7 linked regions of the Homo sapiens genome follow. The protein of the gene in region 4 purifies or fractionates together with the protein of the main gene of each other region. This does not show direct contact. Each region holds a gene or a part of one and is shown on either strand. Other genes may lie near its edges.

Region 1 (3,530 bases), on a different chromosome or scaffold from region 4:
ATTAGATTTTATTCTTTGAGTAAATAATGACTGACAAAAGGGGAATGTTGCCTAGGAATGTAATGTATGGCAGAAAAATAGGTTTGGTCTAAAGCTTTGCCAGCAGTGTTCGAAGAAAGTAGGTAATTTGTTCAAGGATAAGAGACTTGATTCTTTGAGGTACAGCCTGCCTTAAAAAACAGGTACATAAGTCGTAGAGTATAAAACAGTATGTGGTGTGGTGGCATAAAAAAAAACAGACAAGGTGTCAGGAGATTAGGATTACTGGTTTAGCTACAGCCTCTTCCTTAATCTATGGTATCTCAGTCTCAGTGTACTCACTTACATGTAATATCTAATGGTATTTGTACAGAACTAAAATACATAAATTCATAAAAGTTATTAATGTGTAAAGCACTGATAAAGTTTTTTTTTGTTGTTGTTGTTTTTTTTTTTGAGATGGAGTTCCACTCTTTTTGCCCAGGCTGGAATGGTGTGATCTCCCGTCACTACAACCTCCACCTCCCAGGTTCGAGCGATTCTCCAGCCTCAGCCTCCCGAGTAGCTGAGATTACAGGCGCCCGCCACTATGCCTGGCTAATTTTTGTATTTTTAGTAGAGATGGGGTTTCACCATGTTGGCCAGGCTGCTCTCAAACTCCAGACCTCAGGTGATCTGCCCGCCTCGGCCTCCCGAAGTGCTGGGATTACAGGCTTGAGCCACCACGCCTGGCCAAGATTTTTCAAATGCTTCTCACAAGCACTTTTTAATTTACAAAGCATTACTTTAGACTTTGTATACATTCATGTGAGTAAGGGGACAAGAATTTAAGGCCCAGTAGTATTGCTTGTTCAGAAAGGTACTGCTCAGTATTGGACCAGCTTGCTGTGTAGCTGGACACCTGAAAGACATTTTCTACTTCTACAGGCAGAGACTGAGCAGCATCTTGATGCTCCCTAGTGCATTAACATAAGCAGAATTTACACCCTTTTCAGCCTTGGCCGAGTGCCTCTGCTTAGCCAACATTCCTACTAAGCTCCTTTGTCTCGATTGTGTCTTGCTTTGGTTGCTAAAAAAAAAATCTTAACTAAAATAACAGATGTTTTGGGGTAAATATTTAAGTATAGCTTTTGGGGACAGATCTAATAATTTATGTTGCCAACTTGTGCTTGTATGTTGCTAACTTGTGCTTGGATGTTGATCTGTTGAAAGTCATGCTGTTTTTTTTGTATTTTGTTTTCTTTCCATAGTTGTGGTGACAGTACATGGAGAGGTATGTGCAGAAAATATTTGTGTGGTTTTTGCAGATTGCTGGGCTCTCTTTCAGCCAGTGTGGTGGATTCTGTGTTGAAAACTGTTCCAGTCAGTATTGCTTCATTGTTGGCCCTTGTATATGTGTGTGTGGTGAGCTGCCGCCATTCCAGGCCTCTCCTCTACCAAAGTGTTGTCTTTAATATGCTGTATGTGGACAGGTAGAAGGGCTATACAATGAAAAGGATGCTTGAAGTACATGGTGCTTCCATGCTGAGGTCAATGATTATCTCTGGGATGAAGGCAAATGTGCAAATGTGGGCACAGTCTCTGCACATTGTACTGCCTTTAATAATTTGCCAGCCGTTTAATATGGAGAGCCTATCACAGTAATATTCACCTTTGTTTATTCTTTAGATTGACCCTGCTACGGGAATGGTTATGAATCTGGCTGATCTCAAAAAATATATGGAGGTAATGGCATGTTGGGTGCTTATTATGTGCTATTCCCTAACTGTAATATTTGGTGGCCCCCTATCTACCTCCCCAACCAGTTATCTCCTAAGGTTCCATGACTTTGTGAATAGAACTGGATGTGGGTGTTGGGGAATAGTTGGAAGAACTGCTCGCATGGCCTCTAAAGGTGTTTTGGTGACTTAACGGAAATTAGTCACAGTTGTGTTACAGCGATGGGAGGAAATATAACATGCTCACCTTGTATTCCTTGTTGGAATATCCTGATTTCCTTCAGTTAACAAATTCTCCATTTCTTTTAAGACATAGCTTTCTCCTTGAGACTTACTGTCTTTCTTTTTTTTTTTTTTTTTAAATAGGCACAGAACCAATGCAAACTTTTCTTTTTGGTAGAGGTAGGGGTCTCACTATGTTGTTCAGGCTGGTCTCAGACACCTCCTGCCTTGACCTCCCAAAGTGCTGGAATTACAGGCATGAGCTACTGCTCCTGGCCTTCTCCTTGGAGCTTTCTCTTCCCTCTCTGAATATTCCTTGTACCTTTGATCATAGATTTAGACACCACACTGTGTTGTTCATTCTAGCTTTATTATAAACTCACCAGAGCAGTACCTCATAGAGATAACACACAAGGTGTTCAATGAAGAACTTAACTGATTGTGTCATTATAGAATTCTTGCACTGTAAGAGACTTTGGAGATTATTCAGACCAACTTCTTCAACCCATAGATTAAGATTGAGAGATGCTGAACAGTTAACTGACTTGCCCCAGGTCATATGGCTAGTCATTTGCAAAGCTGGGAGTAGATTTCTTTCCTTCCAGCTGTTTTATTATGCTGTCATTTCACTTGCAGCTTAGGTTTGTTCTGAGATTTGACATTTGCTTGATTAAAATGATGTTATTAGTAATGATTACTTCTTTCACATTACTTATTCATATATTCAACAAATTTCTCTACTTCGCATCAGTTTTTGAGCTAAGTGTACAAAGATGAATGAGATGTAGCCCACAGAGTGTATACATTACTTTTTCTAGGAGGTGAAGAATATTATTAAATAACTGTTGATTTAATAAATGAGTAGAAGAATGAGTGAATGAAGAAACAGCACTATGCTCAAAATACTTTAGGAAAGTTATACAGATAGGGCCAGCATGCATTTATGGGGCAGGGGTTGGGGGGCAGGCGGAGAGAGAGAGAGAGGGAGACAGAGACAGGAGAAGAGGAGGGGGAGGGGAGGACAGGGGAGGAGAGGGGAGGGGAAAGAAAGAAAAAGAAAAAGAGAAAAGAAAAGAAAAGAAAGAAAAGAGACAAGACAGCAACATAAAAGGCCTCAACATATGACTAAATACTGGAGGAGGGCTTCTCTATGCTGTTTTCTGCTTTTGTATGCCTGAAGGACACCACACACTTTCATCAGTAAAAGTGGCTTATCATGGCATGTAGAGTAAAGTTAGAGCTCTACCGTGGGGGGAGGATTGCTTGAGTCCAGGAGTTCAAGGCTGCAGTGAGCTATGATTATGCCACTTGCACTCCAGCCTGGATGACAGAGACCCTGTCTCTAAAAACAAAACAAAAGAAAACAAAAAGCCCTGCATAAGAGGCTTTAATGGAGAAATTGGGACTGGAACTGGGATTGAAGATGAAGCAAGGATGCCCGTTTTCTTGTTATTCATGTGGAACATCCCTTCATTGGATATATTTCAATAACTGTTTGATCTAGGACTTACTCTTTTTGTATGATTCTAGTTTTTCTCAAGAAATGATTGCTGTTACTGTTATTAATGTACCCTTCTTCAAACTACGTCCTATGGAAAATTACATTTTTTT
Region 2 (4,507 bases), on a different chromosome or scaffold from region 4:
AATTGGGCTGAGAGTTTTGCCAAGTGAGTTCTCAAAGGGAAAGGGGGTAGAAGGGACACTAGAAATTGGTAGGATGAATTGAATAGAGGTTCTCACCTGACAGGCCACAGCCTTGTTGGAGCTTGGCCTCTGGAAGGAGAAAACCAGAAAGATGAGGCGTGGCTAGAGTTGGGTGCTTGAAGTCCAGATTTCCAAGGAGAGCTATCACTGGTGATGGCCTACTAGGGTAGGAGGGCTGGGGTGGGTGGCTTGAGTTGAGGCACAGCCGGAGTGGTCTCTCATGCGGGAGGCGTGTTTCATCTCTGAAATTGTTAAAATGCACTGTAGGAAGCTGACTGACAGACAATTTTATTGATTATTAAATTCTTAGATTATTAAATTCTCTACAGAGTCCTTTGCCTCCCACCGCCTACCTCTTTGGGTGTTTGGCAGGATCTCAGCTTCCCTAAAGATAAAAATCACCAGGAGTCTTAGACCTGCTGAATCATATTTTCCAGGGGAGATTTACAAGCATGCCAGAGGAACATCCCTTACCGGGGAAGTCTGCAAACTTTGACCTAGGGACTGACCTAGGGTATGACCTTGGAAGTGGACCAGTGTGGTAGGGGAGAGTATTGAGATAGTGAGTTAGCTCATAATAATATCCTTCTTTCCTGCCTGAGAATTTGAACAAATTCGAGACATTTTAGGTGGCAGATAGCACCTGAAATACTTTTTGTTACTAGTAACCATGAAGCCAGAGGATGTAGATTAGTATTTTAGGTGGCAACACCTGAAATATTACCTTTTATTACTAATAACCTCAAAGCCAGAGGATATAGATTAATATGAAATCCAAATGATCCTGCTTATTGAACCCCCAGATTCAGCAGTTACCCAATCAGTTGCAGGCAAGGTGGGCCAGGGTAGGTTGGTCTCTGGAAAAGCAGAGAACACCAGCTTCCTGCAAGTGGGCAGGTGAGTGCTTGCTTGCAAAAAGAAGGGAGAGCTAAGCTGAGCACACCATTTTTTCCTCTCAGTTTTACTGGTCAGACAAGCTCACCCCACCTCCCCTGGGGCAGAGAGGCCAAGAGCATTCGTTATACGGATGAGTTCCTCCAGGTGGAAAGAAACATCAGGAGTGGGGAAGCATTTTTACATCTAAAAGGAGATCAAGGAACTGTCAAATCCAAAATGTTAGATAGTATTTATAAGTGTTGAATCACCGAGAGTGATGACTGAGAGAGGAAGATGGAGAACCAGCAGCTAACATCTTTAGGGAGTCTTTAGGGAGTGAGGAGTGGCCTGGAGGTTGGTAGGTGTCAGCAGAAAGGCAGGGTAGTGGGAAGTATCATGTGAGCTATTTTTCAAAGGGACGCTTCTTTATGTTGTAATTTTTGTGTCCCTGTGTGATTAAATGTGTTCTCCCACAAGTCAGAAAGGTGCAGGTAGGCAGGGACCGTGTCTTTCTTGAGTACTCTGGCTTCATAAATACTTGTTGCATGAGTGAGAGAATGCGGTGACAGAGTGCTAAGCCCTAGTGTGTTGAGTCCACACGTGGATCGGGGTCCATGCAGTGACCGCCCCTCTTGGTTGGTGGGATGAGGGGACTCACGGAACTCCCACCTGTTTCCTCCCGTAGCCGACATCGGCCTGGCTGCCTGGGGACGCAAGGCCCTGGACATTGCTGAGAACGAGATGCCGGGCCTGATGCGTATGCGGGAGCGGTACTCGGCCTCCAAGCCACTGAAGGGCGCCCGCATCGCTGGCTGCCTGCACATGACCGTGGAGACGGCCGTCCTCATTGAGACCCTCGTCACCCTGGGTGCTGAGGTGAGGCCCACAGCTGTATCACCCCAGAGTCCTTGCCCTCCCTGGGTTCAGCCAGGGAAGAAGACGACTGTGCCAGGGTGGGGACCTTCCAGGTGTGGAGCTGACCGCGGGCCTGGAGGGGTTCCTCCCTCTCACTCGGTTTCCTCCGTTTCCCAGTGCTGCCACCCCTTGTGGTGAGTGTTCTGCAGATTTTCTCCCTGGCTGGGAAGGTCACTGTTGGCTACCCTCAAGGCATCCTCCTGATGGATGCTCTGGCAGGAAAAATTCAACACCCATGTCCTACTTAGTCTCTTAAGGGCCAGCTTGCCTTGGCCCTTCGGGGGTCACAGGCCTACCCTGGACCCATCATGGCTGCTGGATGATGGCAGCTCTGATTGGTTCAGCCTGGGTCATGTGTGCCAATGATTAACAGCTCTCCTAAGGTCTCAGAGAGTCAAGAAGCAAGCTGGTTTCCCAAAGCAGGGTAGGGCAATGGAGCCAAAATCCACAGAGGGGCTCAGGGCTGAGTCCTTGGACCTCTTCTTTCTTTTCAGCATTCACTCTTGGCGGTCTGATTTTATAGCTTTAGACACTATCTGGTGATGACTGTCACATTTTTGTACTAGCCTGGACTTCTCCTGGAACTCAAGACTGGCATATCCAGGAGCGGGGGCGTTGACGCTCCCTGGAGGTCTAGTACTCATCTCAGGCAGAACGCGTTCAAACAGACTCAGGATTTTCTGCCCCCTCTTCTTCCCAAAGCCTTCCCCACCTGAGTAAATGGAACCTCTGTTCCAGCCTTCTGGGTTCTCTCAATTCACGAATCTGGGAGTCATCTCCTCCCCTCCCTTTCCTCCCCACTCCCAACTCCCTTTACTCCAACAACTCATCCCTCTGCAAATCCTGTCAGTGCAGCCTTCAGAGTAGACCCAGGATGTGACAACTTCTCATCATCTCCACTGCTACTGTCATATTTCTTGTCTGGAGTCTTCTCCAACAGTCTCTGCAGTTGTCCCCTTGCTTCCACCCTTTCCCTTCCACACAGCACTGGAGTGAGGTTTTAAAACCTGAGTTGGATCTCGCCCCTGCTCTGGCTCCCATCTGCCCACCCAGCATCCCCAGCCTGTGATCCTAGAGCTTGCTGTGCCTAGATCCCAAGCCTCTCCCCACTACCCGAAGCTCTCCCTTTTCCTCGCCCAGCGTCCCTGGTGCTTTTGAGCCATCAGTGACCAACAGCCTTGTTTTGATGGCTCTTCTAGGTGCAGTGGTCCAGCTGCAACATCTTCTCCACCCAGGACCATGCGGCGGCTGCCATTGCCAAGGCTGGCATTCCGGGTAAGTCCTGCTTGCTTCTGAGACGTGGAATTTGTGAAGGGATTCTGCCCTCTTTGCTTCACTGACTGCTAGAGCAACAGACTTCCTTACATATCAGAAAGGGAGAGGAGTCACCGCCACAAAATCCTAGCCCAGCGACCCCACAGGAAAGAGCTGCTTTGTCCCATCATCATCTAAAATCCTGTGGAAGTTGTTTATTGACCCAGGTCAAGCCGTGTAACCAGGAAGAGCAAGATCTTATGATTGGGAACTACATGATGAAGCGGAGGGGAAGTTCATTAAAGGAAGGATGTGGATCTCTTTCCAAAGAACTGGGGAGGGCTACGGGGCAGAAAAAGAGGTTCACTGCCTAGGGTATGGCGGTCTAAAGGACTGAGGAAGGACCAAGTCTAACGAGAATGGAGTTTTCACAGGCTGGGCACATGTCTGCTTGGACTTGGGGAGGGGAGTGGTTAGATCTGACCCAGTGATTAGGACATTCAAGATTGCTTCTAACCAACCACAGGTGGACAGGAGGGGGTGGCACAGCACTCCTTCACAGACTGACCAGGGCTGAATGGGCATGATCCCCATTCCTCAGCCTTGGCACCGTGGCTTTCTTCTTTTTTTTTTTTCTTTTTGAGACAGAGTCTTGCCCCGTTGCCCATACTGGAGTGCAGTGGTGCGATCTTGGCTCACTGCAATTCTTAAGACTATTGTCTGCTCCAGTTGTGGGTAGAAGCAGCTGGCTCTGCTTGGCCAGCGTCCTTTGCTCACAAGAGGCTCCTGGGAACCCCACACCTGTGCCCTAGTCATGCCACATGGGAGGAGTGTGGGCTGGTGGTCAGTAGCCCTCAGTTCTGGTGTCTATTCTGGAATTTCATTTAGAGTGGCCCAAGTGCGTCTTAGCTCCTCTCTGGGCATCTGTAAGTGATGATAATGGTCATGGCTGCCTCACAGGGTTTCTATGAGGAAGAATGAGATGGGGTATGGAGGATTTAGAGTCATGTCTGGCAGAAAGCAAGTACCCCACACATGGTAGCTGCTCGTAGTCATTTTTTGGCCAGACTTTGCCTGAGATTCCCCCACACAGAGGCTGCTAGTGCTCCAGTCCTTTCAGTGCAGAGCAAACCCTGGATCCTGCCGTGTGGATCCTGCTGAGGGGGAGGCGTTGTGGGGTATCAAGCCCTGGTCACTCAGGGTTGATGCCTCAGTCCTTGGCGCCCAGGCAGAAGGGGATGGGAAAGGAAAGAATGATTTCCTGATATCTATATCTGGGGCGGGGGGCTGTACATGGCTTCTGTCTCACTTAATCCATACTATTGTGAGCCCTATTTACAGAGGAGAAGACTGAGGCTCAGAGAGGTGAAGTGATTTGCCCAAGGTCACACAGCTGGCAAGT
Region 3 (4,507 bases), on a different chromosome or scaffold from region 4:
AATCTGCAACTTTCAGTTATATCTGCTACCACACTTTGTAGGAGAAGCAAAATTGACTGTTAGGGTTCTCTTTTATTTTATTTATTTATTTATTTGTTTATTATTTTGTTTTTGAGATGGAGTCTCGCACTGTTGTCCAGGCTGGAGTGCCGTGGTGCAATCTCAGATCACTGCAACCTCTGCCTTCTGGGTTCAAGCGATTCTCCTGCCTCAGCCTCCTGAGTAGCTGGGATTACAGGTGTGCGACACTGCGCCTGACTTATTTTTGTATTTTTAGTAGAGACGGGGTTTCACCATGTTGGCCAGGCTGGTCTCGAACTCCTGACCTCGTGATCCACCCACCTCTGCCTCCCAAAGTGCTGGGATTACAGGCGTGAGCCACTGTGTCCGGCCTATTTATTTTTTTTGAGTAATACCATTGAGCATGAAGTTGCCAGAAGGCTGGGTGCGGTGACTCAAGTTTGTAATCCCAGCGCTTTGGGAGGTCGAGGTGGTCAGATCACTTGAGTCCAGGAGTTCGAGACCAGCCTGGGCAACATGGTGAAACCCTGTTACTACAAAAAATATAAAAATTAGCTGGGTGTGTTGGCATGCGCCTGTAGTCCCAGCTACTTGGGAGGCTGAGTGGGGAGGATGGCTTGCACCCAGGAAGTCAAGACTGCAGTGAGCTGAGATCACACCACTGCACTCTAGCCTGGGTGACAAAGCGAGACCTTGTTTCAAAAAAAAAAAAAAAAAAGTTGCCAAAAATAGGCAGGTTAATTTTGGGGTGAGACTTGTTATTGTTAGCATTTGTTATCCTTTCACAAACCTCATGTTTGAGTCAGTGATTATAATAGAAGAATAGTAAAGCTGTTTATTTATTGTGTGTTTACCGTGTGTTCTAATTGTTTTGCATGTATCAACTAATTGAATCCTCAGAACAACCCTGTGAGTTTGGTACTGGTACTGTCTCAGGGGTAGAGCTACCCTCATTAGACAGTTAGGACTTGAACTTAGATTCTCTGATTGCAAAATTTGTATTAATTCTGCCCTACTACTACTGTGTTATTCCTGTCCTGCATGGGAGAATATATAGTTCATAACAAGATCAAAATGGCTTTTTGTGTGTGTGTGTGTGTCTAACTAGTATCCAGAGAGAACCTTCTGTAGTGTATAAAATGTGGCAATCGGGGCCAGGCGCAGTATCCAGAAAGAACCTTCTGTAGTGTATAAGATGTGGCAATCAGGGCTGGAGCGGTGCCTCACACCTGTAATCCCAGCACTCTGGGAGGCCGAGGCTGGGGGATAAGTTGAGAGCAGGAGTTCAAGACCAGCCTGGCCAACATGATGAAACCCCCGTCTCTACTAAAAATACAAAAAAATTAGCCGGGTGTTGGGACGTGCACCTGTAGTCCCAGCTTCTTGGGAGGCTGAGGCAGGAGAATTGCTTGAACCTGGGAACTGGAGGATGCAGTGAGCTGAGAACGCACCACTGCACTCTAGCCTGGGTGACAGAGCTAGACTCCATCTCAAAAAAAAGAAAAAAAAGAAAAAAGGACCAGGCGCGGTGGCTCACGCCTGTAATCCCAGCACTTTGGGAGGCTGAGGCAGGTGGATCACCTGACGTTGGGAGTTCGAGACCAGCCTGACCAACATGGAGAAACCCCATCTCTACTAAAAATACAAAATTAGGCAGACCTGGTGGCGCATGCCTGTAATCCCAGCTACTTGGGAAGCTGAGGTTTAGAGTTCCTGAGGTTTGAGGTCAGGAGTTCAAGACTAGCCTGGCCAACATTGTGAAACCCTGTCTCTACTGAAAATACAAAAATTAGCTGGTTGTGGTGGCACACGCCTGTAGTTCCAGCTACTCAGGAGGCTGAGGCAGGAGAATCACTTGAACCTGGGAGGCAGAGATTGCAGTGAGCCAAGATTGTGCCACTGCACTCCAGCCTGGGTGACAGAGTGAGACTCCCACTTGAACCCGGGAGGCGGAGGTTGTGGTGAGCTGAGATTGCATCATTGCCCTCCAGCCTGGGCAACTAGAGTGAAACTCCATCTCAAAAAAAAAAAAAAAAAAAAAAAATTCTGATGTTACTGAACAGAACATAGTAGATTTTTGGGTATGTTGCCAAAAAAGAAAACCATTAGTTTTGACTGTTAAAGGCAGTTCTGAAATCTAGTTTGTAAATTAGTTTAGGTCAGAGCCTGTAGCTTTCTTTCCTTATGCTTAGAGTGATTATAACTATTGCAAATGAAATGAAATTCAATGCAAGACATGTGGCTAGTTTTTCTGCTAATACTATCTTCTGCCACTTTATGGAAAAGTTGACATTATAGTTAATATTTCAGGAGTGGGTTGAGAGATTTCCAACAGGGAAGGAAGCATTTGAGACTTTTCACCTGGTCAGCTGTTTAGTGGTTTCGTATTCTGGGCTTTATAATTATAAGGCATCCTTAGAATCTGATCTTCGTTGGGATAAAGGCAACTCATGAAGGAGCAACAGCCTATAATCTTGAAGGATGCACTATTCAATTTGACCATTTGACATAGCCATGGGAAACTTCAGTTGCAAAAGTTGGCCAGATAATCAGCATGTCAGGTGTCTTCTGAGAGAGCCTCTGCTAGTGCTGGGAATCCTGGTAGCTCTTTTAGAGGATGAGATTTGGGAAGCTGTGTGTTGAACATGATTCTGTGACCATACTGAAATAGCCCCTAAGAGCTAATTGCTTAAATGACCAGAATACAGGCTTCCAAGCTGATCTTTGTAGAAAGGCCAAGGCAAGCCTGTATCATTTAAATTTTAGTTACTTAACCAAATAGGAAAGTTAAGATGGAAAAATGACCACGGATATTTCTATTTTTTATTAATTTCCATTCTGATTTTTTTACTTTCACTGCATTCTGGGTTTTTTTTTTTTTTGAAACTAGAGTCTCACTCTGTCACTCAGGCTGGAGTACAGAGGCACAATCTTGGCTCATTGCAACCTCTGCCTCCCAGGTTCAAGTGATTCTCCTGTCTCAGCCTCCTGAGTAGCTGGGACTACAAGGCGTGCACCATCACAACTGGCTAATTTTTGTATTTTTAGTACAGATGGGGTTTCACAATGTTGGCCAGGCTGGTCTTGAACTCCTGACCTCAAGTGATCTGCCTGCCTCGGCCTCCCAAAGTGCTGGGATTATTGGCTTGAGCCACTGCACCTGGCCCACCACATTCTGTTTTGAATTATGCTTTCAGTAAACTATAATATGTGATCAAGGCCATTGTCAGTGAGAATAGTTGGCACAGGAGCATTGACCTTGTTCAGAAGATAGATGTTAAAATTGAAGTCACTGCCAGTGTTCTCAGATGGTTTGATCCCTGTTGCTGAGCTCTCGTTTCAGACCTGGCCTTGATGCTTCCCATTTTATATGGCTTGTTTTGCCCATGTATTTTTTCAATTCAATAAGCAGACTTTTAAAATTGAGTAAATAATGTATGGTGCTGTCCTCAGAGGGCTTATAATTCAGTGCAGAGACAGATTTATGTGCAAATGTAAATAACATACACAAAGCACGGTAAGTAAACTGCCTAACACAGTTCTTTGGAAACCTCAAGAAATGAGAATGGTATTTGAGGCTAAAGGAAAAATAGCTTGAGCTGAGACTTGGAGATAGGGAAATATTATGCAAAACAAAAAAAGCTGAGTAAGTCTGTTATGATGGGAATGGGGGTGCTACGGCTGTGTGAAGTACTGGGAAAGGGGATCAGCTGTGTGGTTTGAGACTTGGCCCATGCTGCCTTTATGATTTGAGATCTTGGACAAATTACCTTACCTTTGCAAGTCTCAGTTTCTTCCTCATAAAATTGGAATGACAAGATTCACTCATAGTATTGTTAGGATTAATGTATGTGAAAATGTACTGTGTAAACACTTAAGCTCTTATAAATTATTATTATTTTTGGTGTGGGATGTAATAGCAGATGATGCTGTGGAGATAGGTTGGGACCAGCATGTTGTAGGAATGCCAACAGAACTAGTTTGGACTTTGTTCTGTAGACAGTAGAGAACCATCAGAGCTTTTAAGCAGGAGCGTAACATGAGTAGGTCTGTTTTGTACGGGTAACAGGTGGCATTGGTGTAACACTGATTGCAAGGATCCGGAGATCAAGAGCAGCAAGACTAATTAGGAGGGTATCACAATGGCCAAGTAAAAAGAAACTTAGGGTCTGAGTTGGGACAGTGGAAGTGGATTTGGCAAGGAGTTAATATAATGTAAAATCCCTAAAATAGGGAGAAATTGTTGGCTGACGAGATGAGGGTTGTTGAAGAAGGGAGGAGTTAGAGATGAATCTAAATCTGACCTGAGACTAGAAGGTGGAGGAGTAACAGAGAGTGTAGCCTCTAGACAGATTTAGGAAAGTGAAGGAAAGAGAGAACAGATTCAACAGATAGGTAGTCTGTGTTCAGCAGAAAGATTATTTGTTGAATGAATGGGTTGAATTATTGAGCCCCCATGTTGTTCAGGGAGACTGCTTTGAGTAGT
Region 4 (4,403 bases):
CAGAGATGCAGAAAGCAGGGCATTCTTACTGAGACCAATGGCCTCTTCTCTCTGTCACCTCTCATACATCTGTTTTGGTTATAATCCTGGTCAAAGGGGAAAGAAAAAAAAGTTTTATGTACCAAAGGTTTCCTTTCCCTGAATTCCCTCATCACACCTGAATGCTTAAATATCCAATGAAACCATATTCTTTTAAATATAATTCTTGGTATAAACAGATTTAATTAAATCCTTATATATAATCATTTCCTTCACATGTATGCAAAACAAGCCCCCAAATAAAAGTAGTTAACACACACACAGTATATAACATATATAAGTAATTTGTATCACAGTGCTTTGAAATGGTATTATCTCAGACCTAAATTCTGCAGATTTTTCCTTTCACCCCCTTTTCCTTAAATGAACTTATTATTTTAAGAACAGGAATTATAATGCTTATTACAGAAAAGTAACAAAGACAAGCAAAATAAAACATTTAATATTCATAATCTCATTCATGTAGAGATGAACACAGTGAGCACCTTGACATATATAGCTACAGATTTTAAAAATTCAGGTATATGTAAATATTTTCTAATAGTTCCCTGAACTATCTCCAAATAGAAGATGATACATATTTTTAACAGAACTAATTTTTAATCTTTATAAGTGGAAAATTATTTAGAAAACTGAAGCCTCTATTCAAGAAAACAATGGAATCTACTGCATAGTATCATATATTGCTAAGCATATCTAATGAATTCTAAGATATTTTTTCACACTTAACATCTCTGAAATCCAGATGTACTTTATAAGGTCATGAGTTAATTTGCAATATTTTTCTTTAATGTTTCATAAAATGACATTTTTATAGTTAATGAAATCTTAAAGTTGATGAAACATAGTATGTGATCTATAAGCAGTAACAAATATATATTCAGTATACATATGTAAATAAAAACATAAACATAAATATACAGAAACACATATAATGTACCTATTTCCTTTCCTACTATTAAATTTGTTCCTGATTGTATGGATGAAATATACCAATATTCAATACTGTTAAGATTTTTATTTCAAATGCTCTGACCTCTTGAGAGTGTGAGATTTATTAAAGATTTATAGAGAATAGGAAAAGACTGAGGATGAGAAAATCCCTCATAGTGATTTTAACAAATTTCATGAATATAATCAGGATGCAAAGAGGAGAAAGTCGCAGTCCAGAATACACCAAATTTTCCACCTAAACTTCTAATACCGCCATCACAAAGCTAAACAAATGATAGCTTTGTGTGTGTGTCTCCCCATGTACTAAAGGCTGCACTGAAAATATGGTTCTTTGGCTTCTCTAAAATCACTGACACTCTTTCTCCCTCTCCTTGATATGATACAGTATTACTATGAAGTATCTTAGTGAGTATTTTGTCAGTCACTGTTGCTGGGCATTCAATGAATTTTATTCATCCCTAGGAAATCCTCTTCCACATGATAGCATTTCCTTCTCCATTTTCTTCTTTCTAGATTCCTAATAGTCTGAATTGGTTCTCTATGTCTTCTATCTCTTTTTGTATTGGGGAAGTTTTCTTTTTGGACTTTAATCCTCCTATTGAACATTTTTATTTCAGCAACAATATTTGTAATCTGTTTATTCATTCTTGTCCTGGCTCCTTTCTGCTACATAGTAATTATAATTTTATAAAAGAGGTCTAGTCTCTTTACTAAATTGTCCTCCATGTTGATTTTGGAACTTAATCTTGAATTTTGTCTCTCACGTTGCTGGCTACCCTCATATGTGTGATGACTGTTAGTTGTACAATTACATTTAAGAAAGAGGATTACATTGCTAGCTGGAATTTCTTCTACTATTATAAAAATAGAACTGTTTTACCAACAAGTCTCTTCTCCGAGTGGGACTTGATGGTAACTATAACTGGGATAGGGCAAATCAACGTCATGGGTCCACAGGTTTTGCTTTAAACATGTGGATGTTGGGCCGAGCATGGTGACTCAGGCCTGTAATCTCAGTACTTTGGGAGGCCGCGGCAGGAGAGTAGCTTAAGCCCAGGAGCTTGAGACCAGCCTGGTCAACACAGCAAGACCCCATCTCTACAAAATAAATAAAGTAAAAATTGTTGAATTAAAATCAAAATAGATAAATGTGCAGGTGCAGAGCCAGTTATCAGCCTTTTAGTTCCCAGAGGCCAGCATTAGGTCCTAGTGTGCCAGCAACTACCAAAAGCCAATATACCAACATTTAATTCATTTCCATTGTTATCTAACTTTGTAGTGGCATCTTTTCATGCCTGTTGACAAGGAAACAAAGCTTTCAAAGTTTGGGTTGAAAATCTGGTACATTCTAGGCTGTGGCTTCCTTTCCTTTTCCATTCTGTTCCGTCCTTTTTATTTGCCACTCTCCCTGTTTGGGAGACAGGACTCCCAAACAGGGAGAGTTGCTGGACTTCTCACTCTTTTGTTCTAACTGACTCTGAATCCAAAGTGTTTCTGGGGCTAAATCAGGCAGACTGTCTCCTATTATTTCTAGACTATTTCCCAATCCCTTCACCTCTAGTATATTCTAGCCTTGTTTCTATCCTGTTATCTCCAGAAAACCTCAATCAAACGTGAACGCAAAATGAAGACATTTTTCGGACATAGAAGGGCTCCAAGTTATCTTTCTACACATTTTTTCTAAGGAATTTATAAGAGAGAGAAAGACATGGAATCCAATAAATAATGGATATAATCCAAGAGAGTAACTAAGGAAGACCCAGGATGGCAGATTTACAGGAGGCCTGCACAGTTACTAGTCACTGGTACAGGAGGAAGAAGATGTGATTAAGATACATAGGGAAAGAAAAAAAAAGGTGGCAATTAAAAACTCCAGAAAAATTAACAAGAAAGAGTCTTAGTAACAATTGGAATAACACTTCACGTGATTTTAAGAATAACAGAGTAAGGAAGATTTATTTGAGCCTGATGTTTGGAGCACTAACTGGTGGCCTAAGTAAGAGTCATGACATTAGACCCATATAGAGAAGGAAGTGTAATTCTAGCACACAAGTTTGCTTAGTACAATATTTGCCTGAACAATATTTACATAGTCATAATAATGTAACTTTTAAAAGTGGAGGCAACAATAGAGTAACTAAAAATTAACAGTTAAAACAAAGGTTGCCTCTGAAGGATGGAATAGGGGTAAGGATGCATAGGATACAAGATTTTACGATCATCAGCTCTTTCTATACCTGTGCAGTCCAAAACGGTAGCCACCAGCCATGTGTGTGGCTCCAGAGTACTTGCAACGTAGCTAGTCCTAATTGAGATTTGCTGTCTTCTGAATTGTGAAGACTTTGTATTTAAAAAAAAAGAATGTAAAATAGCTCATTAATCATTTTTAACGTTGTTTACATGTAGAAATATTTTGGATATTGGGTTCAATAATATCTATTATTAAAATTAATCTCACTGTTCCTTTTTTCCTTTTTAATATGGCTTCTAGAGAATTTAAAATTATATATGTGACTCACGTATAGTACAACACTGTAAATCTATACCATTTGATATATACACATATGACCGATGATCATTATACTACTAACAATATTATAAACTAAAACATAAACTCCCTCTGAATTGCTACAAAATCTTAATTAACAAGTTCCAAATCAATGTCCACAGTAGCGCTGTAGTAACTGGAAGGTCTAGGGCAAATTTAGTGCTGAGACTGTGGCACAAAAACATGTACCTTACATCTTAGCCTAGAACTGCACCTTGAGGAATTTCCTTAGTGGGAAGTGGGTTCTGGTCTCTCTAAAAAATAATCCCACTGTTCATAAAATACTTCTTTAAAAAATTATGGCAAACCTATATAAAAGCAGAGGGAATAATACAGTGAATTTCCTATTTCAAGCTTTAGTAATGAAAACATTTTGCCAAGTCTTATTTTGATATCCTCTGCCACTTTATTTTCCTGGAGTATTTTAGAGTATATCCCAGACACCATATTATTTAACCAATATAAGAACTTTCTACAAAGAATAACTTTTACAAAGAAGAACTTTCTGTAACTATTTGGAAACCTGGAAGATAGTTCATACACATGTCTTTTCTATATAAATACATAAATTTTCACAGTCACAAGCAGGTGCCCTACCAACCAGCAATGATGACCAATAAGGGATTTTTGCGTCATTTTGAACTCATAATTTCTAAAAGTTACATGTCTAAATCCACTGCAAAGAGTCTTTCTTTCTGATGCTAAACTGCCCCAACACACTTTGAATGATCAGCTTAATAGTCTGTATACACCTCATGCCCATGAACACATCATTCACATGCCTACATGTGTGATACTCAAGAGATATCAATGAACTTAAAATAGATTTTTTTTGCAACATGATGAGGGAGGAGTTTCATAA
Region 5 (4,142 bases), on a different chromosome or scaffold from region 4:
ACGCAGTTGGAAATCAAATGAGTAGCCACAGTTTCAGGTGCTGAAAGCACCTGACCAAGTACTGCTTACCTCTAAAGCAAACCTGGGACTTCGCTAGGGTACAGGGAGTAGCAATGTATATGTGGCACCTCCCTTTTTCCACACGAGTCTAGTGCCTAGGTACCATATGCAGGAACTGGGATCTTTATTGTCAAGTATTCATTTTAGGAAAATGCCAGAAGTCAAGCCCTTGTGTTGATAACCCACTAAACGCCTTGCACATTCTTTTTTATTCTTTTTTTTTTCTTTGAGACGGAGTCTTGCTCTGTGCCCCAGGCTGGAGTGCAGTGGCACAATCTTGGCTCACTGCAACCTCTGCCTTCCAGGTTCAAGCAGTTCTCCTCCTGCTTGAACCTCCCAAGTAGCTGAGATTACAGGCACCTGCCACCATGCCCTGCTAATTTTTTTAGTAAAGACGGGGTTTCACCATGTTGGCCAGGTTGGTTTTTGAACTCCTGACCTCAAGTTATCCACCCGTCTCAGCCTCCCAAAGTACTGGGATTACAGGCGTGAGCCACCATGCCCGGCCCACCTTGCACATCCTTAACGTTCAAGGCTTCCTGCTTCAATCCCTGTTCCAACTGTCTTGAGGGCCCATTGCTGGCAAGTGGCCAGTCAGATCATGCTGGAGGGAGGAAAGTAGGACTAGTTCAGTTGTTGAGGCTACAGGAGCCACTTTGGGCTGTGGTTTTACAGGCTCACCTTTCTGTTCTATCCTAGAACTTGCTTATTTCAGTTGTTTTTATGTTGTTGCCCCTGGACTTCCTCTGTTCCAGGTAAAAATTCATGCAGGCCCCAAATTTGCCTCCTATCTGACCTTCAGCCCCTCCGAAGTGAAGTCACTCCGAACTGAGTATGGGGACCTGGAATTATGCATTGAAGTAGTGGACAACGTTCAGGATGCCATTGACCACATCCACAAGTATGGCAGCTCCCACACGGATGTCATCGTCACAGAGGACGGTCAGTGTCCAGATGCTTCCCGCATACAGTGTCTGCCTTTGCTGCTTTCTGATCCTGCTCCTCTTAGCCCCCCTTGGGCTGCAGAAAAACATCATTTGAGTAGGCTTATGGTAATGTTTAGTAGTGGTTGCATTTGGTACTTTGATGAGTGCTTTCACATCACTTTATTATATTGTCACAGCTGGAGGAGGAGGGGCAGGGATGATTAGCTCTGCTTCGAAGATGACTAACCCTGTCAGAGGCACTATCATTTAATGCGTGCAGCAAATCTTACAAGGTAGTTAAAATAAACCCATTTTACAGCTGAGGAAACCAAGGCAGAACCAACTCTGCACATTCATTCATTCATTCATTTATTCCACAAATATGTATGCAGGGACACTCCTGGGTGTCAGATACTGGAGCCTCAATGGTGGAGGATGCCAGTAGGGCCCCAATGAGGAATTTACAGTCAGCTAATTAGGGCACCAGAGCAGTACCACCCGTATTAACAGCCAACATTTACCAAGCACTCACTGTGTGCTAGGCACTAGCATGAGTACTCCCCAGGTGTTTCATCCTCTCTACAACCCTATCAGCTAGGTCATGTTGTAAGTCCCTTTTGACCCAGACACAGAGAGTTTTGTACACCTGCAGAAGGTCACAAAGCTAGCAGGTGTACAGCTGGAGTTCAGGCCTAGGAAGTCTGGCTCTGGAGCCCATAAGTAGGAAGTTTAGGCAGGTCACCTGCATGGGAGATCTGGATTCCAACTCAGTCTTTCCACAACACCGTGATTGATGAAGCTAACTTGTCTTCTTCCTGTTGAGATTTTTCATAAGCCTGAGTATTTAATACGTGAGAACACATGGAGAGGCCCCAGTGGGGACCCAGACCCTGCCCTGATCTGTCACCAGTCAATGGCTGGAAACAGGGATGTTCTCTGGGTATCATCCTAACTTGGTTTCTCCTTCTTCACCCTGCAGAAAACACAGCGGAGTTCTTCCTGCAGCACGTAGACAGTGCCTGTGTGTTCTGGAATGCCAGCACTCGCTTTTCTGATGGTTACCGCTTTGGACTGGGTAAGAAAGACTCTGGTTGGGAAGAAAGAAGTTCCTTGTGAAGCACTGTGTGGTCTAGGGGTATGTTGAGGTGGGAAAGACACCTCCCCTTGACTGTCACATGCTTGGTCAAGATAAGAGAGAAACAGGCTGGGTGCCGTGGCTCACGCCTGTAATCCCAGCACTTTGGGAGGCCGAGGTGGGTGGATCACCTGAGGTCAGGAGTTCGAGACCAGCGTGGCCAACATGGTGAAACCCTGTCTCTACTAAAAATGCAAAAAATTAGCCAGGTGTGGTGGTGCATGCCTGTAATCCCAGCTACTCAGGAGGCTGAGGCAGGAGAATTGCTTGAACCCGGGAGGCAGAGGTTGCGGTGAGCCCGAGATTACGCTACAGCACTCCAGCCTGGAGGACAGAGTGAGACACCATCTCAAAAAAAAAAAAAAAATAGAGACAGACTTCTGGCAAGGTAGGATTATCAGGGAGAATAATTAATGAAACCTCCCATGAGTTGGTGGAAGGCCTATCTTCTAAGCATTTCACATGCTAAGAAGGCAGGTACTTGTATTCATTTTTCAAAGAGGGAGAATGAGATTCAGAGAAGTATAGTAACTTGCCCAAAGTCCCACAGCTGGCATTCAGACCCAAACTTGAGCAAGTCCAAAGCCTGGGTTCTCCCGCTACAGCGTGGGCAACCACAGCCTGCCTTTTTACACAGGCTGCGCCAGAGGTACATGCTGTGTCCCTTGAGAGCACTCCTTTTACAGACTTATTTCGTCAAAATGGCACAGCCAGGTTGCCTCGGAGATAGGAAACCCCACAATGGTAGGACAAAAGAAGGTGCCGTGGGCCTAAGTACCAGCATCAAAACAAACAGGCCAGCCAGAAGTACAAGGTTACCTTCTACAGCAGACCTTGAAATAAAAAGCTTCAGAAGGGCACTTCTGTCCCTTTCCATTAGGTATAAAATTTCCAGCCCTCTGTCGTGTTGGGGTTATTTGGACAGTCTCTCGTTTTCAGGGGTACCAGTATATAAAACTCCAGAACGGGCGCAGTGGCTCACGCCTATAATTCCAGCACTTTGGGAGGCCAAGGCGGGCAGATCACCTGAGGCCGGGAGTTGGAGATCAGCGTGACCAACATAGAGAAACCCCATCTCTACTAAAAATACAAAATTAGCTGAGCATGGTGGCACTTGCCTGTAATCCCAGCTACTCGGGAGGCTGAGGCAGGAGAATCGCTTGAACCTGGGAGGCAGAGGTTGCAGTGAGCCGAGACCGCACCATTGCGCTCTAGCCTGGGCAACAAGAGCTAAACTCCATCTCAAAAAACAAAACAGACAAAAAACCTCCAATAATACATTTATGACACGTTTTCTGAATATTTGAGAATTATTTCAACCACTCAAAACATTTTAGGCCACGGGCAGTGGCTCACACCTGTAATCCCGGCACTTTGAGAGGCTGAAGCAGGAGGATCTCATGAGTCGGGGAGTTCGAGACCAGCCTGGGCAACGCAGCGAGACCTCCTCTCTACAGAGATGAAAAAATTATCCAGGTGTGGTGGCGTGAGCCTGTAGTCCCAGTTACTCAGGAGGCTGAGGCAAGAGGATCCCTTGAGCCCAGGAGTTCGAGGCTGCAGTGAGCTAAGATGATGCCATTGTACTCCAGCCTGGGAGAGAGTGAGGCCCTATCTGTATAACAAAACAAAACAGAAAGACACACATTTTAATCCTTCTGAACTTTTTGAGTAGATGATCTGCCTGGAGAAATAATTCTCACCAAATTGTTAAAAGGTTATGAAAGGGAATTTAACTCAGTTATTCTTAATCATGATACTCTTTATTTTTAGTTCCCCATTTGTATTATGTTGGGATTTTGATGTAATTATCACATCACTTGCATTGATCTTTATACTCTCCATGTACTTGAAAAAGAAATAGCAACATATTTTTAAGGGCTGGGGCACCCAGCATTCAAATGAAAATCCAGGATGAAGGAAGAACAAAAGATCATTTCATTGTCCTTCCAACACCAGCTCAGAGTGAAAGCTGGTTGAGTTAAATTCCTTGTGAAATGCATTAATGACAGTAACAGATTTTA
Region 6 (4,507 bases), on a different chromosome or scaffold from region 4:
GGAGATCATCCAAGGCCTCACGCGCATGCCTGGCGGCCGCGACGCACTCAAAAGCAGCGTGGACGCGGTCAAGTACTTTGGGAAGGGCACCTACACCGACTGCGCTATCAAGAAGGGGCTGGAGCAGCTCCTCGTGGGGTGAGTGGCCCCCAGCCTCCTGCCCACGCCAGTTCTCACGCGTGGTACCCAGCCTGGGCTGGGGTTGGCCTGGGGTCCCTGTGCGGCTTCAGCTGCAGCCTCCCTGTTCTCTTGGAGGCTGCACGGCCTCCCTGACCCACTTTGTGGGCAGGAAAGAGACGGAGACAGACAGAGACAGAGAGAAACAGAAACAGGGAGAAACAGACACAGAGAGAGACAGAGACAGAGAGAGATAGAGACAGAGACAGAGAGAGACAGAGACAAAGAGTGACAGAGGGACCAAGACAGGCAGACAGAGACAAACAGAGACAGAGACAGAGACACAGAGAGAGACACAGAGAGACAGAGACGGGAACAGAGACAGGCAGACAGAGACAGAGAGAGACAGAGACAGAAACAGAGACAGAGGGACAGAGACAGGCAGAGAGAGACAGAGAGACAGAGACAGAGACAGACAAACAGAGACAGAGAGACAGAAACAGGGACAGAGACAGAAAGAGAGAGAGACAGAGGGAAACAGAGAGAGACAGAGACAGATAGAAAAAGACAGAGGCAGAGAGAAGCAGAGACAGAGAAACAAAGACAGTCAGAGACAGACAGAGACAGAGACAGAAACAGAGACAGAGAGACAGAGACAGAGGGGCAGAGACAGGCAGACAGAGAGACAGAGACAGAGACAGCGAAACAGAGACAGAAACATACAGAGACAGAGAGACAGAGAGAAGCAGAGACAGACAGAGGCAGAGAGACAGAGAGAAGCAGAGACAGGGACAGAGACAGAGACAGAAATAGAGAGATAGAGACAGAGGGACAGAGACAGAGAGATAGAGACAGAGAGGGAGACAGAGAGATAGAAGCAGAGAGAGAGAGACAAAGACAGAGGCAGAGAGACAGAGAGAGAAGCACAGACAGAGACAGACAGAGAGACAGGGACAGACAGAGACAGAGAGACCGGAAACAGAGGCAGAGAGACTGAGAGACTGAGAGAGACGGGGTGGTTTTCCCCACAGCATCAACACCAAGCAGGGCTAGGATCACTGAAACAGACTCATCAGACCCGAAGCATGCGCTTTCTCGGGGTTTTTCTGGACTGAGGGGTTTCCTCTCATCCCAGTGTCCAGCTGTGGGGACGCAGGGGCCGCAAGCCCCGGAGTGTCCAGAGGGGAACGTGGCCTCCCCACACCCAGCCCTTCACGAGGCCTCAGGATCCCAGTGGGGGTACCCGAGGCTGCCCTGTCCAGCCAGGCGGTGCGGGGGGTTTGGGGAGAGCCTCTCCCCGAGGTCGGTCTCAGAGGGCCACATGGCCGGTGTGGGCCGGACATTCCCTTTCCAATGGTTGTGCCCACTTCCCTCCAGAGTTGGTGCCAAGCTGGGACCTGGGGGACTTGGAGTCTCAGGAAGTCGTCCGCTGTCTGCAGGGGGTGCATGGGGGATGTGGCCACACACGTCAGAGTGCGGCCCCCTGTGGAAGCCACAGACAGACACGACTCCCCTAAATGAGCTCGCCCTTCTGGCCGAGATGCTCAGCGTCCCCAGCAGGCTGCCCGACTGCCCTGCGATACTGCCCTCCTTCCTGCTGCTCCCACTTTCCCTTTCGGGGGGTTGGATTTGGGGCATTCAGGGATCGCCCTGTTGTTTGCTCATCACACCCATTTCCTGCAAGAGCCACGGTGACCGAGCAGCCTTGAGTTGAGGCAGCTTGTGGGTAGACGCGGCGGGCATCTCGGAGGGGCACGCTCCCTGCCACCCTCAGCCTCCACTCACTGGTCAGGGGCTTTGCGCCCCAGGGCACCCCAGGAACCGAGCCTCCTTTGGGGTCATGGGTGCCTCTCCTGGGAGGGCGTGGATTTTCCAAAGCAGTTTAGAGAAATGAGACCCACAGGCGTTATTTCCCATGGTGAGGTTCTTTTCAGTAACCCCCACCGTATAGCCAGGATCAGCAAAGAGAGGCGGCTCCTCCCGGTGAGACAGGGACCAGCACCTCCCGGACAGGCTTGGGTCTCCCTCCAGTTCCCCCACCTAGTCTCGAGGTCTCACGCTGCCCTCTCCTGTCCAGGGGCTCCCACCTGAAGGAGAATAAGTACCTGATTGTGGTGACCGACGGGCACCCCCTGGAGGGCTACAAGGAACCCTGTGGGGGGCTGGAGGATGCTGTGAACGAGGCCAAGCACCTGGGCGTCAAAGTCTTCTCGGTGGCCATCACACCCGACCACCTGGTAGGCACCGGCCCCCCCCGGCAGATGCCCCCAACCACAGGGAGTGGCGGCTGCAAGGCCCCCGGCAGCTGGGACCGTCTTTTGGTCCTCGGGAGGGTGTGGGTTCTCCAGCCGGCCACCCTTGCCCCTGAGAGGCCAGCCCCTCCTGCTGAGGAGCCTGGAGCGCCCCAGCCCAGCCTCCCCTCTGGCCCTGTGGGAAGCGGCCCCGGCCGTCAGGGGTCCCAGCCCTGCTCAGCCCACCCTGAACACTGCCCCCAGGAGCCGCGTCTGAGCATCATCGCCACGGACCACACGTACCGGCGCAACTTCACGGCGGCTGACTGGGGCCAGAGCCGCGACGCAGAGGAGGCCATCAGCCAGACCATCGACACCATCGTGGACATGATCGTGAGGCCCCTGCCCAGGAGACGGGGAGGCCCGCGGCGGCCGCAGGTGGAAAGTAATTCTGCGTTTCCATTTCTCTTTCCAGAAAAATAACGTGGAGCAAGTGGTAAGAGCCCTCCCCACCACCCCCAGCCGTGAGTCTGCACACGTCCACCCACACGTCCACCTGTGTGTTCAGGACGCATGTCCCTATGCATATCCGCCCATGTGCCCGGGACACATGTCCCCTGCGTGTCTGCCCGTGTGCCCGGGATGTGTGTCCCCCTGCGTGTCCACCTGTGTGTCTGCCCATGTGCCTGGGACATGTGTCCGCCTGTGCGTCCATCCGTGTGTCCGTCTGCCCATGTGCCTGGGTCGCATGTCACCCTGTGTCCCAGCCGTATGTCCGTGGCTTTCCCACTGACTCGTCTCCATGCTTTCCCCCCACAGTGCTGCTCCTTCGAATGCCAGGTGAGTGTGCCCCCCGACCCCTGACCCCGCGCCCTGCACCCTGGGAACCTGAGTCTGGGGTCCTGGCTGACCGTCCCCTCTGCCTTGCAGCCTGCAAGAGGACCTCCGGGGCTCCGGGGCGACCCCGGCTTTGAGGTGAGTGGTGACTCCTGCTCCTCCCATGTGTTGTGGGGCCTGGGAGTGGGGGTGGCAGGACCAAAGCCTCCTGGGCACCCAAGTCCACCATGAGGATCCAGAGGGGACGGCGGGGGTCCAGATGGAGGGGACGGCGGGGGTCCAGATGGAGGGGACGGCGGGAGTCCAGATGGAGGGGATGGCGGGGTCCAGATGGAGGGGACGGCGGGGTCCAGATGGAGGGGACGGCGGGGTCCAGATGGAGGGGATGGCGGGGTCCAGATGGAGGGGACGGCGGGGTCCAGATGGAGGGGACGGCGGGGTCCAGATGGAGGGGACGTCGGGGCTCCAGATGGAGGGGACGGCGGGAGTCCAGATGGAGGGGACGGCGGGGTCCAGATGGAGGGGACGGCGGGGTCCAGATGGAGGGGACGGCGGGGTCCAGATGGAGGGGACGTCGGGGCTCCAGATGGAGGGGACGGCGGGAGTCCAGATGGAGGGGACGGCGTGGTCCAGATGGAGGGGACGGCGGGGTCCAGATGGAGGGGACGTCGGGGCTCCAGATGGAGGGGACGGCGGGGGTCCAGATGGAGGGGACGGCGGGGTCCAGATGGAGGGGACGGCGGGGTCCAGATGGAGGGGACGGCGGGGTCCAGATGGAGGGGACGGCGGGGTCCAGATGGAGGGGACGGCGGGGTCCAGATGGAGGGGACGGCGGGAGTCCAGATGGAGGGGACGGCGTGGTCCAGATGGAGGGGACGGCGGGGTCCAGATGGAGGGGACGTCGGGGCTCCAGATGGAGGGGACGGCGGGGTCCAGATGGAGGGGATGTCGGGGTCCAGATGGAAGGGACGGCGGGGTCCAGCAGGCAGGCTCCGGCCGTGCAGGGTGTGGACTGTCCCGGGGGCGCTGGGGGCTTCTGAGGGTGTCTCTGTCCGCCCTGCCCTCAGCCGCACTCTGTTCAGAAGGACCTTTCTGGAGGTAGGAGGGTGAGAATGTGGGTCCCCTGCTTCTGTGTGGCTCACATAGGATGACCTTAAACGTTAGAATTAGCTGCTGATAATTAAAACTTGCCATGAGGCTGCTCATGGACCTCAGATTTCTGGCTTCTCCTAAAAACCATCAAACCCAGCAGCTGTGGGCCCGAGTCCCATGGCCATTTCCTGGGGGTCGAGCTGTGACCCTGGGGGGCTTCTGTGCTGCAC
Region 7 (5,065 bases), on a different chromosome or scaffold from region 4:
GTGCCTTCTTGTTATGCTTTCTGTGTGGGGCTGGCCACTGCTTTCCTGTCCCCATTAACACTGCAGTACCTATCCCTAAGAGAGGCTGCCCTTCCTGCCATCTCCCTTACTCTGAGGATGACTTACTCATCCTTTTTCTTTTATTTATTTATTTTTTTAGTTTTTATTATTTTAGAAACAAGGTCTTGCTCTGTCGCCGAGGCTGGCGTGCAGTGATGCAATCACAGTCCACTATAACCTCAAACTCCTGAGTCTGAGCGATCCTTCCACCTCAGCCTCCCGAGTCGCTAGGACTACAGGCGCACGTCACCACACCAGCTAATTCCTTTTTTTTTTTTTTTTTGGCAGAGAGGAGGGCTCACTAAGTTACCCAGACTGGTCTTGACCTCCTGGCCTCAATCGATCCTCCCCCCTCAGCCTCCCAAAATGCTGAGATTACTGGCACAAGCTACCATGTCTGGCCTTACCCATCCTTTTTCTGACGCTTGTTACCTGAGGAACTTGTCTGTCCCAGGTTTCAGTTCAATCAGTGCCTTGGCTTTCCCAACTCTATTCTCCTGTGTCTCCGAGGATGGGGGGTTCAAAGCTCATCTGCCCCCACCTCTCCTGCAGTGAGCCCCACAGTAGCTCACACCCAAGCCTCACAGGAAGAACAGCAGTGGGTCCCCCACTGGCTGTGCGCCCCCAACCGGCTGTGCGCCTTGGCCTTTCCCGGGTCCAGAATCTGACAGCACTCACACCTCTGACTTCCACACTTGGGCTTCTAGCCAGTGTCCAGGCACAGGATGAGCAGGACTGAGGAGCGTGTCTGTGTCCTCTTCTGGTGCAGGTCAATAAGCATGCGTTTTCTGGAGGGAGAGACACCATCGAGGAGCACAGGCAGTTTGGGGGCAACTGTGATGTGGACGTGTCTTTCATGTACCTGACCTTCTTCCTCGAGGACGACGACAAGCTCGAGCAGATCAGGAAGGTGAGCAGGGAACCCCAAGGGCCCACAGCCGCCTTCTGCCACCCACTCCTGCCCATGGGGCCTGGAAGGCTCCAACAGCCAGGCATGAAGGCTTGGTCGGAGGTGCTCAACTGAAACAAGGTGAAAACTGAGTAGACTCGCCCTCATGGTTTTTAGGCCTGGGCTCAGAAGCCTCATGAACAAATCTCGAAAGAGCAGATACAAATCACTATTCATTTAGGAGCCACCCAAAACAGTCTTGCTTTATTAGTCATCAGAGAAATGTAAGTTAACGTGATCAAAGCTAAGACAGTTGAGTATAGAATTAGTAGGGGCTTTTGTGTTGCCATTGACTATTTTCAGTGATTATGAAGCAGATGCTTCAAGGCACACTCAAGTGAGCAGAGTGTTTATCAGCACAGCCTCAGGAAGCAGTTTGGTACTGGGTACAAAGAGCCCAAAAATGTTCAGAGCTTCTCCTCAGGTTTTCTCATTCTTAGATTTTTTCCAAGGAAATAATCCTGAGTAAGAGAAAGCTTTCCACACAAAGATGTTAAAAATGATAATAGCAAAAAGTTCAACACAGACTCAGTACAACAGAGGAAACGTTAAATTAGAATTGTTACAGGGTGGATTATTATGCGGGCATGAACTATTTTAAGTGTTCATATGCAGGGCATGGTGGCACACATCTGTAGCCCCTGCTACTTGGGAAGCTGAGACAGGAGGATCCCTTGAGCCCAGGAGTTCAAATCCAGCCTGGGCGACATAGCAAGACCCTCATTTCTTTCTTTTTTTTTTTTTTTTGAGACAGAGTCCTGCTCTGTCACCCAGGCTGGAGTGCAGTGGCGCAATCTCGGCTCACTGCAAGCTCTGCCTCCCGGGTTCACACCATTCTCCTGCCTCAGCCTCCCGAGTAGCTGGGACTACAGGCACCCGCCACCATGCCCGGCTAATTTTTTTGTATTTTTAGTAGAGACAGGGTTTTACCGTCTTATTCAAGATGGTCTCGACCTCCCGACCTCGTGATCCACCCGCCTTGGCCTCCCAAAGTGCTTGGATTACAGCTGTGACCACCGCGTCCAGCCAAGACCCTCATTTCTTTTAAAAAAAAAAAAGTTTTAGTGACACAGGAAAATATGCCTATGATAGTGAAAAAAGGATACCAAATGAAAACTCAGGGAGGAGTTAACTATGTTTAAATGAAATGCACAGGGAAAGAAATGTGAAGAAAATCTACCAAATGTTAGCGGGAGACCCACCTCTGGGCATTTTTCAGGTGGGCAATTTGTAGGTGATTTTTCTTTACTTTGCTGCTGCTTTGTGGTTTGGGTACTTTATTAAATTTGCTTAATGAGCATGCAGTACAATCAGAAAAAGAAAAAATTAGCAAGATTTGGCTGGGCGCAGTGGCTCACGCCTGTAATCCTAGCACTTTGGGAGGCCGAGGCAGGTGGGGGGAGTGGATCACGAGGTCAGGAGATCGAGACCAGCCTGGCCAATATGGTGAAATCCCATCTCTACTAAAAATACAAAAATTAGCCAGGCGTGGTGGCAGGCACCTGTAATCCCAGCTACTCAGGAGGCTGAGGCAGGAGAATCACTTGAACCTGGGAGGCGGAGGTTGCAGTGAGCTGAGATCATGCCACTGCACTCCAACCTGGCAACAGAGTGAGACTCCATCTCAAAAAAAAAAAAATTAGCAAGATTTTACAGAAGCCATAAGGCTGCCAGGAATTGTTGTTGTTTAGTGCCTGGGGGAATGGCCCCTAGCATCGGTAGGGGTGGGGACTGCCCTCCCCATTGGCCCTTTCACTGTGAGAGGCCAAGTCATGGCTATCGTCAGAGCCAGGTTTCTAGCCGTTTTAGGAAAAGTGTAGCTGAAGGTATAGGTTATTGTTGTGGTAACAACAGATCTCACTTCTGAGTGCCACCCACGTGCCAGGCTCTGCATGGGTGGTGTGGGCTGAGCTGGTGCCCGAGGCAGGAAGGAGCCACTCAGGACATGTGGAGCCATCTCTCACGTGGCTGTCTCCCTCCGGGCAGGATTACACCAGCGGAGCCATGCTCACCGGTGAGCTCAAGAAGGCACTCATAGAGGTTCTGCAGCCCTTGATCGCAGAGCACCAGGCCCGGCGCAAGGAGGTCACGGATGAGATAGTGAAAGAGTTCATGACTCCCCGGAAGCTGTCCTTCGACTTTCAGTAGCACTCGTTTTACATATGCTTATAAAAGAAGTGATGTATCAGTAATGTATCAATAATCCCAGCCCAGTCAAAGCACCGCCACCTGTAGGCTTCTGTCTCATGGTAATTACTGGGCCTGGCCTCTGTAAGCCTGTGTATGTTATCAATACTGTTTCTTCCTGTGAGTTCCATTATTTCTATCTCTTATGGGCAAAGCATTGTGGGTAATTGGTGCTGGCTAACATTGCATGGTCGGATAGAGAAGTCCAGCTGTGAGTCTCTCCCCAAAGCAGCCCCACAGTGGAGCCTTTGGCTGGAAGTCCATGGGCCACCCTGTTCTTGTCCATGGAGGACTCCGAGGGTTCCAAGTATACTCTTAAGACCCACTCTGTTTAAAAATATATATTCTATGTATGCGTATATGGAATTGAAATGTCATTATTGTAACCTAGAAAGTGCTTTGAAATATTGATGTGGGGAGGTTTATTGAGCACAAGATGTATTTCAGCCCATGCCCCCTCCCAAAAAGAAATTGATAAGTAAAAGCTTCGTTATACATTTGACTAAGAAATCACCCAGCTTTAAAGCTGCTTTTAACAATGAAGATTGAACAGAGTTCAGCAATTTTGATTAAATTAAGACTTGGGGGTGAAACTTTCCAGTTTACTGAACTCCAGACCATGCATGTAGTCCACTCCAGAAATCATGCTCGCTTCCCTTGGCACACCAGTGTTCTCCTGCCAAATGACCCTAGACCCTCTGTCCTGCAGAGTCAGGGTGGCTTTTCCCCTGACTGTGTCCGATGCCAAGGAGTCCTGGCCTCCGCAGATGCTTCATTTTGACCCTTGGCTGCAGTGGAAGTCAGCACAGAGCAGTGCCCTGGCTGTGTCCCTGGACGGGTGGACTTAGCTAGGGAGAAAGTCGAGGCAGCAGCCCTCGAGGCCCTCACAGATGTCTAGGCAGGCCTCATTTCATCACGCAGCATGTGCAGGCCTGGAAGAGCAAAGCCAAATCTCAGGGAAGTCCTTGGTTGATGTATCTGGGTCTCCTCTGGAGCACTCTGCCCTCCTGTCACCCAGTAGAGTAAATAAACTTCCTTGGCTCCTGCTCTTGTCATTGTGCTCTGTCTGGGAGGTCTGAGGAGGGAGCAGAGACCCCTCCCCTCACCCTTCTGTGGATGACCTTGAGTCTGCTGGAGTCAAAATTTGGGGATGAAAGCGCACAGTCCCAGGAACCCCATGGTGTTGTGCCACAGCTCCCAGGAATGGGCTTGTGCTGGGAGAGCCCTTAGCAGCATCCTGGTGCGGGCTCCCTCTCACACCACATTTCTCATTTCCAGCAGCTGATGGAGAATGCAAGCAGAGGTTGTCCTCGCTTTTCAGAGGAGGGGCTGGCCGTGGGGTGCTTAGTGGTGCTGTGTAGTGACGGGGAGCACAGGCTGGGAGCCAGGTCGGGCCCCATTCACATGAGGCCCAGGGCAGAGGCCGAGCTGCAAGGGAGCCCTGGGCTCATTCTACCGGCCCATCCTTATTTTGCAAGTAGGGAAACTGAGGCTTAGGAGAGGAGAACATGACTTGTCCAAGGCCATAGGGTGACTCTGATACAGCGAGTCTGTCCTGACTCTTGGTGCTTTCCACACACATACAGAGGGACCATTTTACAAATGAGGGAACTACGGTTCCCACCCTGGAGGCTGGAGGCCTGGGCTCGAGTCCCACTCAGGTACCCGGGTGCACCATGACCTCAAGTAGGCTTCCTCTCCCGGTCTCGACTCCTGCTGGCCTGGGCCCCACCCCTGCCCTCCCCTGCTCACCTGGCTGGCTATGGCCAGTGGGGGTGAGCCACCCACAGAGGCCACATAGCTCACTAGCCTGTTGCCTTGGGCAACTAATATGACTCCTCGTCGCTCTACTGCACCTGTGACGCAAGT

The links.
Region 1: the proteins of SMCHD1 (region 4) and PTS fractionate together in Homo sapiens (co-fractionation; one large-scale study listed by BioGRID). This does not show direct contact.
Region 2: the proteins of SMCHD1 (region 4) and AHCY purify together in Homo sapiens (affinity purification with mass spectrometry, with the first as the bait; one large-scale study listed by BioGRID). This does not show direct contact.
Region 3: the proteins of SMCHD1 (region 4) and ECPAS fractionate together in Homo sapiens (co-fractionation; one large-scale study listed by BioGRID). This does not show direct contact.
Region 5: the proteins of SMCHD1 (region 4) and ALDH18A1 purify together in Homo sapiens (affinity purification with mass spectrometry, with the first as the bait; one large-scale study listed by BioGRID). This does not show direct contact.
Region 6: the proteins of SMCHD1 (region 4) and COL6A1 fractionate together in Homo sapiens (co-fractionation; one large-scale study listed by BioGRID). This does not show direct contact.
Region 7: the proteins of SMCHD1 (region 4) and WARS1 fractionate together in Homo sapiens (co-fractionation; one large-scale study listed by BioGRID). This does not show direct contact.

Annotation. Positions count from the first base shown.
Region 1 is NC_000011.10:112,228,979-112,232,508, forward strand, and holds part of PTS (6-pyruvoyl tetrahydrobiopterin synthase), read left to right. Parts: intron 1-1,229; coding exon 1,230-1,252; intron 1,253-1,647; coding exon 1,648-1,704; intron 1,705-3,530. UniProt on the Homo sapiens protein: Involved in the biosynthesis of tetrahydrobiopterin, an essential cofactor of aromatic amino acid hydroxylases. Catalyzes the transformation of 7,8-dihydroneopterin triphosphate into 6-pyruvoyl tetrahydropterin.
Region 2 is NC_000020.11:34,292,700-34,297,206, reverse strand, and holds part of AHCY (adenosylhomocysteinase), read left to right. Parts: intron 1-1,621; coding exon 1,622-1,812; intron 1,813-3,050; coding exon 3,051-3,126; intron 3,127-4,507. UniProt on the Homo sapiens protein: Catalyzes the hydrolysis of S-adenosyl-L-homocysteine to form adenosine and homocysteine. Binds copper ions.
Region 3 is NC_000009.12:111,474,133-111,478,639, reverse strand, and holds part of ECPAS (proteasome adapter and scaffold protein ECM29), read left to right. Parts: intron 1-4,507. UniProt on the Homo sapiens protein: Adapter/scaffolding protein that binds to the 26S proteasome, motor proteins and other compartment specific proteins. May couple the proteasome to different compartments including endosome, endoplasmic reticulum and centrosome.
Region 4 is NC_000018.10:2,798,211-2,802,613, reverse strand, and holds part of SMCHD1 (structural maintenance of chromosomes flexible hinge domain-containing protein 1), read right to left. Parts: intron 3,334-4,403; coding exon of another isoform or gene 3,231-3,333; intron 2,092-3,230; exon of another isoform or gene 1,874-2,091; intron 87-1,873; coding exon 62-86; coding exon of another isoform or gene 1-61. UniProt on the Homo sapiens protein: Non-canonical member of the structural maintenance of chromosomes (SMC) protein family that plays a key role in epigenetic silencing by regulating chromatin architecture.
Region 5 is NC_000010.11:95,608,116-95,612,257, reverse strand, and holds part of ALDH18A1 (delta-1-pyrroline-5-carboxylate synthase), read left to right. Parts: intron 1-815; coding exon 816-1,002; intron 1,003-1,965; coding exon 1,966-2,061; intron 2,062-4,142. UniProt on the Homo sapiens protein: Bifunctional enzyme that converts glutamate to glutamate 5-semialdehyde, an intermediate in the biosynthesis of proline, ornithine and arginine.
Region 6 is NC_000021.9:45,984,332-45,988,838, forward strand, and holds part of COL6A1 (collagen alpha-1(VI) chain precursor), read left to right. Parts: coding exon 1-138; intron 139-2,194; coding exon 2,195-2,354; intron 2,355-2,612; coding exon 2,613-2,741; intron 2,742-2,823; coding exon 2,824-2,844; intron 2,845-3,167; coding exon 3,168-3,188; intron 3,189-3,278; coding exon 3,279-3,323; intron 3,324-4,507. UniProt on the Homo sapiens protein: Collagen VI acts as a cell-binding protein.
Region 7 is NC_000014.9:100,332,967-100,338,031, reverse strand, and holds the end of WARS1 (tryptophan--tRNA ligase, cytoplasmic), read left to right. Parts: intron 1-829; coding exon 830-970; intron 971-2,995; coding exon 2,996-3,157; 3' UTR 3,158-4,242; downstream 4,243-5,065. UniProt on the Homo sapiens protein: Catalyzes the attachment of tryptophan to tRNA(Trp) in a two-step reaction: tryptophan is first activated by ATP to form Trp-AMP and then transferred to the acceptor end of the tRNA(Trp).